Regions from separate parts of the Homo sapiens genome. Here region 1 is linked to region 2. The links come from fine-mapping of genetic effects on gene expression. A gene starts in region 2. The other region holds a variant in brackets. All regions are shown on one strand. Distances are between the middles of the regions.

Region 1 (5,384 bases), 44 kb before region 2:
CATTTTTTGTTTAAAAACTTTTGTCTTCCTTTACCTCCCAGAAAAAGCACATAGTTTAATATGGCATGGGTATTCCCATTGCAATGTTCTACTCCTGAATAAATATAGTTTTCTTTTAGAGAGGCTCTCTTTGTTATTTAGGTTGACATCACCAAGTTGGCAAGGGAGCAACAGCATAAGCCTTTGTGCTCAGGGTACAGCATGGCACAGACCTGAAGGGAACTTTTTGCAAGGAACAAAAATAATATGGCAGGATCTGCATTTAATAAAACCAAAGTCACAATGAACATGAGGTGGCTCAGCAGATACCAATACGTTCAGGTGCCAACCTAAGCAGGTACCTCCCTCCCTCGTTGTCCGCCTTGAGTCTGCATCATTCGAGTCTTCCTGGAATTTAAAAAGCAATCTTAGATAAATGTCAAGTGGGGACCCTTAAGCTTACATAGATTAAACATCTCCATTTGGAGAAGAGAGGCAAGTTTCGTCTAACGATAAAAACAATAAGGATGAATTTAGATGAATACCAAATTCATCTAAAATATCAAATTCACCCTTCAGATGAATATCAAATTTAAGAAAAGAATAAGGCTTGTTGAAATGGCAAATGTGTGGATAGTTGGCCCAGGACTCAGAAAGCAATAAATAACTGATCAATGGACCACATCCCTCAAGATGAAATGTAATGGGGACAATGTGGACATAATGTAAATATTTTAGTAGATGGCATGGGCTTAGCTGCAGAGTGTGTAAATAGCTAAAGTTTCAATGACCATTAAATGCATTAATAAAATTAAAATAATGAAGAAAGGGGGACAGTTCTAATTAAAGGCACTAGTCAAGATATTCTTGGAGTAGTGTGTGTGTGTGTGTGTGTGTGTATGTGTGCACGTGTGTGTGTCCTGGAAACGAGAATTGAGGGGACTGAAAAGAAAAGAACTGACTTATATGGCTGACTTCACATGATAACAGCTATTACATGAAAGAGTAATTAAATTTTTCTGTGGTCCTTGTGGGTAGAATTAAGGCCATTTGCAAAATATATACAAGGAGAGATTTTTTTTTAACCTAGAAAGAAAGAACTTTTTACACATAAAACTGTCTGAAGATAGAGTAAGTAGTAAGTTCCCTGTCACTGGAAAGGAGATTCTGGTTTTGCAGTGAGGATCTGGAGGGAGAATTCAAATATCAAATGGGTGATAGAGGGTCAAATAAATTTTTAATCCTTCCCAAGTCTACGATTTCATGGTATTATAACAGTTAGACTTTTGAACTATGCAGAAAATTGGAAAGGAGTTGAAAAACCGAGAGAATGATTGTTAGAAATCATTATAAGTTGCAGTGGCTGCTTCTGGAACACAAATAATGGAAAAGGTATAAAAGCTAAATGTTTTCATTTTTTTATAATCCAAAATGCATTATGAATATTTCTTGTGCCACTGCATTTAGTAAATAATGTAAAAATCTTGACATGTATATTTTGCATAAAATGAATAACCTGAGATGCAGAAACACCATGTCGATTTATGCAATCCAGTGGGCATTTTTGAGACAGTAAAGCCTCACTGAGAGGCCCCCAGGTACTGTCTGCCTCTGGACAATGTAATGAGGACATGGAAAATCTATGGCTTTCTGTTGCCTTCACATTTCCATCAACTGGGATGATTTCAGGAACATGTAACAGAAAATCCAACTAAACAAGGTTATGGTATAATACTACATTGTGTGGTAAGAAGCCCAGAATAAGGCAGTTATAGGAGTGATGAATTCAATGGCTCGGTGTTGTCAGGTATTCAGGTTGAGTTCTCTGTGGTTCTTGTGGACTTTCCCTTCATAGCAGCAACCTGGCTGAACAACATAAACCACCATGTAAGCCGCTCGTCACACATGATAATGTCTAAGGGGAAAAAAGAGTGTTTAACAAAACATCACTGATAAAGGAGATGAGATGACCCTGAGTAACTTAGGTTAATTTACATTTTACCTTCTGTGTGGGGCCAGAAGTAGGCAAATGG[G/T]TTTTCAATGTCTGAACGAAAGCAGGATTTTTTAGCAGGGAAGAGATGCAATGGAACAGGTATGGATTTTATCTAGGTAACTAACAGTGTCTGCCACAGCTTCTTGTGCCAGGGTCCAATGCCTGTTTTGAAACAAAAATACTATAGTAATGTGTCACGTAACAAAGAACCTCAACCAAGCTAAAAGCAACAGAAATTCATGTCTTGCAGTTCAGGAAGGAAGGTATTGGCTAGGCGATGCTTCCTCTAAAATCTGTAGGAAACTCCTTCATTCCCTCTTCCTAGGCTCTGATGTTTGCCAGCAATCCTTGGCATTCCTCAGCTTGTAGATACATTGTTCCAATCTCTGCCTCCGTCGTCACATGGCTGTCTTCCTCCTGTGTGTCTGTGTCTTCTCTTCTTATAAGGACGCCAGTCATATTGAATTAGGACCTGCCCAAATGACCTCATTATAACTTGATGACACTACTAAGACCCTATTTCCAAACAGGGTCATATTCACTGCAGTGCCAGAGGTTAAAATTTACATGTATTTTTTGGGGAGAGGGCACAATTTAACCCATAATACTTACACAGTGACACTCTTCAAGGGATCCCAACCTTGCCTGTATGGAGTCTTCCTCTATAAACAAGGTCCAAGGTTTCTTCTTCTACACAGTATGGGTATGGAGACACCAGGGTATATTGATAAGAGCACCAAACAGTATGGTATGCTGGAAAGAGCATCAAAACAAGGTTTGAAGACTTGAACACTATTTGGATCGTCTTAGGAAAGGCAATTATTTTCTCTTAACCTGTTAGTTTCCTCGCTGTTACTCATCTAAGAACTTCCCAGGCAAAAGGTACTCTGACCTCAAGGCATTGCTTGCCTCATGCCAGAGCTGTGTGGCTCTTTATGGAGATGAACATATCTTGCCATTGCCTGATACCATTAAACATTCATTTATTTTACTCATTTCTAGTGCAATATTTCCAAAGCACTCTTATTACAAAGTCTTCCCACATGATGTGCTTATAGATGTGAATTTCCTTTCTCCAAAATTTTTATATTTCTCAATATAATTTGAACCATTGTCCTTTAAATGTTGTGAAAAAAATAAAGATTTCAGGTTTTTTTTCTTTCTAAATTCTTGGTTGTAAAATGTCATGTTATTTTCCTTTAGTACGTCAGGTTTACAAGGCAATGCGACCTTCCTGTTTTTATTCATATACAATGTCTTTATATTAGAAATTTGTAATCTCAAATGCTTAGGGTGTAATAAGGAATACATAACAATTGAGATTTTTTTAAAAAAATTACAAAATAATAGGAAAGTTTATGGGTGAATGAACTTATTACCAGTGGCATTTTTAATGAAAAACACTCTGACCTGCATTTCCAGGAGCAGAATGGTTCAGAAGAAAAGTGAATTTCTCAAATTCCACTGGCTTCTTTAACAAAGGTTCATGAGTTTGGGTGTGTGAATAAGCAAGCCCAATGCAGGTCTAGCTGAGTTGGCATGAGGTTAGGGAAAGGGGCTGTATTGACAGACAAATGAGATCACTCATTCTAATCCATTCCAGGATAGCCAGAAGGTTTCAAAGAGGCTCAATAATGAGAGTTGCCTCTTATTCTGGGTCAGGAGACACACTCGTGCCTTCGTGACTATTTTAATTAATGTTGTTGTCTGCCTGGTATGCTTTCTTCTTTTTATTCTAATGGAATATGCCTTCCTATCCACATGGTGGGTCTGTCACATAGGCTGGAACTGTCATATCATCCCATGACCCTGGTGTTCTGGATTTTTTGTTGCAATATCATCCCCTTTAGCAGGAAATAGGCTGATAAAGCTGAGCAGTGTCTGAGGAGGCATAGCACACATGCAACTACTTCAGATATGGCTAAGGAGGATAAGAGGTAAAGAACAAGCTCTCAGAGGGCTGGGCTAAGAGCCACAGAAAACAGTGGATGAGGACATCAACCCAGGGAGAAGACAGTGTTTATTCAAGGTATCTTCATTTCTGCTGTAACAGATATATTCCTAAAATGTACTGCATTAGACAAATCATGCAGTAAGAAAGACAGGGTATATGGGAGAAATGGGGCTAGGGGCCCAACACTCAAAAACTGTCAGTGACATATATTTAAAAAGTAGGAGCCTGTTCAGAGCTTGCAGTAAGCCAAGATCGCACCACTGCACTCCAGCCCGGGCGAAGGAGTGAGACTCCATCTAAACAAAACAAAAAAAGAAAAAAAAAAAAGTAGTGGGCTGATAAAAATGGCAGCACAGTTTTACCCATATTAAATGGTTAATTTAAAAAACAAAATCTATAGTAAATTTGGCACTTTACCTGGAGAAAAACTGAATTTCCTTGTATAACTGGGCATTGGAAGGGCTGCAACTTGTGCATTATTGTGAAGTGGCAGAAGAAAGGTTATTTGGAGTTGGATGGAAAGTTGTAACACCAGAGAAGGTAGGTTCAGCTTATCACACATGCATTGAATCAAGCTAGCTGGTAGATGTTTGAAGTGTATCTATGTGTGTGTATTTCTACACGTTTTTATTCAGGTGAATGCAGTTTTCTGTGTTCACCTAGTGGACAGTATTGTGCATAAGCAAATTAGTGTTATGATCAACTTCTTTCTTAACATATCAATCACATTGAAACAGAGTTGTATTTTAGAAACAAGCATTATAGTAGAACAGACTATATTTCTAGAATACAGCCTATTTTTTCTCCATTTACCTAAAGATATCTCATGGAAGCATATTAAAATAAAACCCATCCCACTTAATAATCTAACAAAAAATTGATTCTTCCCCCCAAAATATGTGCAGAAGACATAAAACTAATAAACTGGAGGCATATTCTGAGATCCAATTTTTTCAGATTTGTTTTTGTTTTACTTTATTATTTTAAAAAAATTCCAATAGATTTAAGCGTACGAGTGTTTTTTGGTCACGGGGTAAATTGTATAGTGGGAATTCTGGGCTTTTGGTGTACTCATCACCCAAATAGTGTACATTGTACCCGACAGGTAATTTGTCACCCCTCACCCCCCTGTCATCGTCCCCACTAGGGTTGAGATCCAACTTCATATGGTTCTATGACATGCGGCTTGCTTTAGTAAAACCAGGGTTAGGAGCACTTGCTGTATATCAGGCAGATCCAGCCAATCAATATTTATAATGCTGTTGCCATTGTGTATGTACGTTTAAAATGTGTCTTTTCATTAAATTCCTTTTTTCTCTGAGGACAAATAAGTTAATCACACAACAAAAGGAGTAGAAAAAAATCAATTGTTATTGATTTGTCATAGTCCAAATATTGCTGCTTGGCATAGTCCAGGTCAATTCAGCATTTCCATCACAATTCTGATTTCTAATTTAA
Region 2 (5,384 bases):
TATCTATCTATCTATCTATGATTTCTTATTTATTTTGGCCTGTCCACTAGGAGTTTTGGATTTTTAAAAATTAATTTGGTTTATTTAAAATTCAGAAGATTTTTAACAATATGGATTTTGCTTCTCTTAAAAATCGTATCTGACAATACTGAATCAAGATTTTTGCAGGCCAGCTGAGTGTACTCTGAGAAGCAATCTCCCCATTTAGCTATAGCATGTGTTTTTGTGCTCTTCAAGGTGTTATGGCAATCAACATTTTCCACTCTCTCCTACAACCTAGCATGCTGGTCCATTTATGTCATTGGCCCTAACCATGCAGGCATCTGAGTTTGAGTCTGTTGTCTATTTGAAGAGCAGTCACAGCACATATTCTGGTTAGAAATGGAATTTCCTGAGCAACTAAATGATTTGATACAAAAGAAATCAAGCATCAATAATCTTGTCCTATTTCAATTTGGATTAATCGATATTTCACCACCACTTCCACAAACTCCCAAACTCCTGTCAGTGTCACAACTGGGTTTATGGACATTCATCAGAGTGGTTCATTGTTACTACAATACACAGGATATGTATGCACATTTAAGGATATGAATTAGACTGTGATGCACAAAAGTGTCATAAGCTAATTCCCACAGCTCTCCTTGATAATATGATACACTATGAAGTGACTTTCATTTCAGTTTATCAGTTTCTCATCCAATTCTGAACTTTATTAAAGGACATTAATCATAGAGACCATTTACTCTTTTGAGGTTGCTGACTAGATGTCTGTGGAACTATATGAATCTACTAAGACAAACACACGTCTATAAGAGAGTGAGGCAAATAGTTGGTTATGGCTGCTAATACGCTTCTGAAAGGCAATTTTAAAGAAGATAAAATGTGTTTTGTGCAATCAATGTCAGTGAAATCAGTTGAATTTTCCAAAGCAATTGCTCTAAAAGACAACACTCATCTGTTTTGCTGGATATTTGATTTGTTTTTGTGGTCGTTGTTTAAATCCATTTCTACTCTTTTAAAGTTATAACTTATTGGTATATGGTTCATTCTTCACCAATGCAGATATATTGAGAAGAATGGAACCTGTCACATATAACACATATTTGGGCAAAGAGTACTTTCTTAAGGAAAAAACAAACAAAACAAAACAAAACAAAAACAACTACTAAAAGACTTTAAGTGGAACTGTGTAGAACATGTTAAATATTTCCATTTCTGTTTACCTTTGTTTCTAGGTATTTGAAAAGCCCAGGCTGCTTTGTTTTATAAACAATTCCTATACTCCTGTGGGCATAATTCTATATTAACTGAAGATTAATTTCAGGTTACACTGTAAAAATGCCTTACAAATGCAATACTATTAGGGTGTGGAAAACCCTGAAGGAACTGAAAATCCAATCCATTTGAGGGAAGCCTTTAATTAACATCTTGGAGAATATGTATTACCTTTTTAAACAGATAAATATTTTTTTTCATTTTAGAGTAGCGGAATCTAATCTTAATCTAATCTTTTAGGAGTATATTTCAGAGAAATTCCAAGCACACCAGTATGACCATCCTTATTTCAGAAATGACAATGCATAGAGGAAAAGTAATGTGTGCAAAGCCTCCGAAGAGGATGGTTAAGTAAAGACTTAGGTTACCAGTATCAGGCTTTCGTTTTTGTATGTAGGTAGCTCTACTGCCTCCTCTTAAAACCAACAAAGGAAAGAGAGACTGGCTGCAAACTTTTAGAAGGAATGGCTTCGAATAGGGTTCCTGGGAGGAATCCCGAGGAAATAGACGCTGCTGCTCTGCTGATTGTCTCCACTATCCTGTTTTGCTCCTACCCACTAATCCAGCCTGGGAGGCTCTGGGCATTAGCGGAAGGCTTCACCACAAGGAGACAGGAGCGAGTATTCCATAGGCATGCGCTCCTAGTGGCACGAGTGGCTTGGGTCAGGATCAAAGAGTGAAGGATTCGGAAGTCAGCTATCTGGAGAGAGAGAGAGAGAGATTGTGTTTTATTCGTGTCCCATAGCTTTCCTATCCTATCCCTATCCTAGCTTTTAACCTGAGCCAGAGCTCACTACACAGGTTCCTGGCTATCGAGTCTGAATCTGCACTACTCAACTTATAAACTGTCTGCAGACACCTGTTAGGGAAATTGCTGATCATGGGCAGCAGGATCTGAACTCGCTTTACCTTCTCGTTTGGAGCACAGGGACCGCCCAGCTAGAGGAGCACCAGCGCACTGCGCCCCAGCCCTGGGCGAGGGTGCGGAGGATTTGTTCTCGGTGCAATCCTGCTGGCGCTTTTCCGGGGTTCTGCGCGGATCCAGCTCCCCATCTCTGCTCCTACACACACAAAAGAAAACAACTCTCGATTGGAAGTTGTGGAATTTTCTCAGCCCCTACGAGGCGCGGGGATTCTCCAGCCCCGGCCCTCCTCCCGCCAGCCTGAGGTCTCCTTCGCTCGCCTGCCTTGCTAGGGACCGCAGTCCCTCAGCCGCAGCTGGGTCTGTCCGCCCCGCCTTTGCCCTCGCCTTTTCCCGGGGCGGATTTGGTGAAGTCGGCCTCAAGTCCAGGAGGTCTGTCTTCGCCGGGCCAGCTCTCGCGGAACTGGGGGGTAGAGAGCAAAGGGAGAGATTCGTGGAAGGGAAGGGAGGTAGGGGTGGCGCAAACGCCCAGAGTATCAAACTTGGGGGTGGCACAGTAGGTGACAGCAGCAGCTGCAGGTGGTGGCTGGGGACCCGCGAGGGGGCGCCCCTCTGGGTAGGGTCTGGCTGAGCGGGCTTGCAAGCCCGGGAGGCGGCTGAGAGACCCTGGACACTGTTCCTGCTCCCTCGCCACCAAAACTTCTCCTCCAGTCCCCTCCCCTGCAGGACCATCGCCCGCAGCCTCTGCACCTGTTTTCTTGTGTTTAAGGGTGGGGTTTGCCCCCCTCCCCACGCTCCCATCTCTGATCCTCCCACCTTCACCCGCCCACCCCGCGAGTGAGTGCGGTGCCCAGGCGCGCTTGGCCTGAGAGGTCGGCAGCAGACCCGGCAGCGCCAACCGCCCAGCCGCTCTGACTGCTCCGGCTGCCCGCCCGCGCGGCGCGGGCTGTCCTGGACCCTAGGAGGGGACGGAACCGGACTTGCCTTTGGGCACCTTCCAGGGCCCTCTCCAGGTCGGCTGGCTAATCATCGGACAGACGGACTGCACACATCTTGTTTCCGCGTCTCCGCAAAAACGCGAGGTCCAGGTCAGTAAGTGTAATTCCTAACTCTGATCACCTCCTGGGAACAAGAAAATCCCTAGAGGAGCGCTCGGTTCCTATGAAGAGGGACATGAGGAGGTCCTCATGAGTGTATGGACTTTTTCCTCCTCCTTTAGGCGGGAGGTGGCGATTTGGAGGATGTAATACCATCCCCATTTTCTACTTTCTCTAGATTTTCCCTTTTCTGTTGAAGATTATTTACTATTTCCTTGACCCTTCTTTGAGATAGGTCATTATCTTTCCAGAACAGTAAGTTGTTATTGTTCCTGCCTCTTTAAAAATCAAACACTTGTCTAAAGCAGAAGGTCCTATTGGATTCTCCAAAGCCGTTCAAGAGGAGACACATTCATTTAAGCGTTTGCTCATTTTCCATCAGAAAGGCTCACCCACTGGCAGGAGCTTTTGGTGGCAGGGAAAGAGGCAAAATTAAAAGCTTTGAGACTTTTTGCAATAGGTACACATCATTTAAAATTCAGTGACATGAAATGGAGATGCTGTTTCCAAAGAAAGGCTTCCCACACCCTTTGGTGAATATTTTCAACTTTCTACTGATTAGCCAAACAATCATGTCTTGTATGTAGCATTCTTGAAACTTCCCTTCTTCCCCCTCCCCTGCCCCCATTCCTAGAACTAATTAGTGTAGGCAAATGCAGGGCTTTTGATTTCTGAGACTGATTTCTGAGATATTTTTCCCTGGGAAAAATGTTCTGGAAGACATTGTGCTTGATAAGATGTGTAGGTTTACTAAGGCCAACCTGTGACAATATTGTTGCAAAAAGCCCCCACAGATTTAAACATCTCTCCTCAAAGCATGAACTGGTCTCTGACTCAAATAACTTGAGGTTATTTGAATCTCGGGTGGTGGGCTGCTGGGGGAAGTCCTGAAACTCTTTTCCTATTCTGCAAAGAAATGTTTCTATGACAAAGTTTCTAAGGATTCCCTTATTCAGGAAAATTGTACCAGTAAAAGTTCTCTTTAAATGTCTTAAAGTAATGTAAATATCTCATTTTGCCTTATTTCAAAGAAAGGTTATTCCCTTGTCTGCTTGCTGTTTCCTTTGTGTGCTTTTGATGGCAACTTCCTCTGTGTACCATTTTCCTTTCCCACTTTTCCAGAAGTGCTGTCATGAAATGATGCATTTTCTGCTCTGGGTAATGTTTTGACCTGGCTGAAGGGAGTAACCTGCTTAAGCACAGCTAACACTGTCTATATTCTAAGAGCTTGTAGATCAACAACCATTCCTACAGAGAAGTTGTAAATAAAAGGGCTTCAAAATTTATAAAACAAGACTGAGAAGAAAAAGCAAAGCAAATCAAAAAATCAAGTATACTCTTCCTCCTAGTAACCTTCAATCTCATGCTTCCTCTCAATTTAGTCAGGTATAACCTCCAAACTCCAGCCTCTTGGAGTCTCTTTAATTCTGTAAATGGCTAAATGGCTTGTCAGGATTGAGTAACTGTACTCTAAAACCAGTCTCTTTCTTAGTCTAGGGGATATGGTGTGGGCTATCAAACATACACTCCAAGATATGAATGATTTGTTTCAGATTTCTCTAATTACTAAGGAGTGGAGGCACATGTGAAAAGAGGCTGGGGCTCCTTGGAATGTTCTATGTGAAATTTATGCAGAGGGAGCAGGAATATATCAGTACGGCAAACACCTGAGTACATGGAAACTCTCATGTCTCTCTGTATAGTAAGGCTCCTGTGGAAGGGTGAGTGGTGAGAGACAGAGAGTGAGGGAAAGATGCGGAAAGAGAAAAAAAAGTGAGATAAATGGAGCGGGAGAAAGAGAGTTGGGGGAGCAGAAACCTTTGAAACAGAAAGTTTTCTTTATGGGTTATACTGACAATTTAAAATGTTATAATCAGGAATTAATTTAACAGGGTCTCAGGACAATTTTTTTTTTGTATAAGCAGTTATCTGATTAAGAATAAGAAAATAAGCATATGGATGTTATGTCATAGGGAAGAACCCTACATAGGCAGTTGTCTTCAGTAAAGGAAAGGATCAAAATTATACTTTCCATTTGGCTGACATTGATTATTCAGTATAATTGTGCTTTCCTTTAGCTTTATATTTGTTCTGACAAATTGCTGAGTACCTTTAATATGCTATATAGTGTGCTAGGGATTAAACAA

Direction of the effects. Alleles are on the strand shown, and positions count from the first base shown. SD is a standard deviation of normalised expression in the study named.
With allele G in place of T in region 1, the expression in prefrontal cortex of the gene that starts at base 2,335 in region 2 is lower (large effect, 1.3 SD a copy in ROSMAP).

The links. PIP is the estimated chance that this variant, and not a neighbour inherited with it, causes the effect.
Region 1: its variant is the best candidate, but not a certain one, in a credible set for the expression of NPY2R-AS1 in prefrontal cortex (ROSMAP, PIP 0.53).

The regions. Positions count from the first base shown.
Region 1 is chr4:155,161,396-155,166,779 of GRCh38, forward strand. No RefSeq gene overlaps it. Among named protein-coding and RNA genes, the nearest start is that of NPY2R-AS1, 44 kb to the right of the region's middle. The variant G/T (reference allele first, on the strand shown) is at 2,013.
Region 2 is chr4:155,205,838-155,211,221 of GRCh38, forward strand. It overlaps NPY2R-AS1 (NPY2R antisense RNA 1), which reads right to left and starts at 2,335. Exons shown (of 2, transcript XR_001741894.2): 1 at 2,188-2,335; 2 at 1-1,978. It overlaps NPY2R (neuropeptide Y receptor Y2), which reads left to right and starts at 2,799. Exons shown (of 2, transcript NM_000910.4): 1 at 2,799-3,232.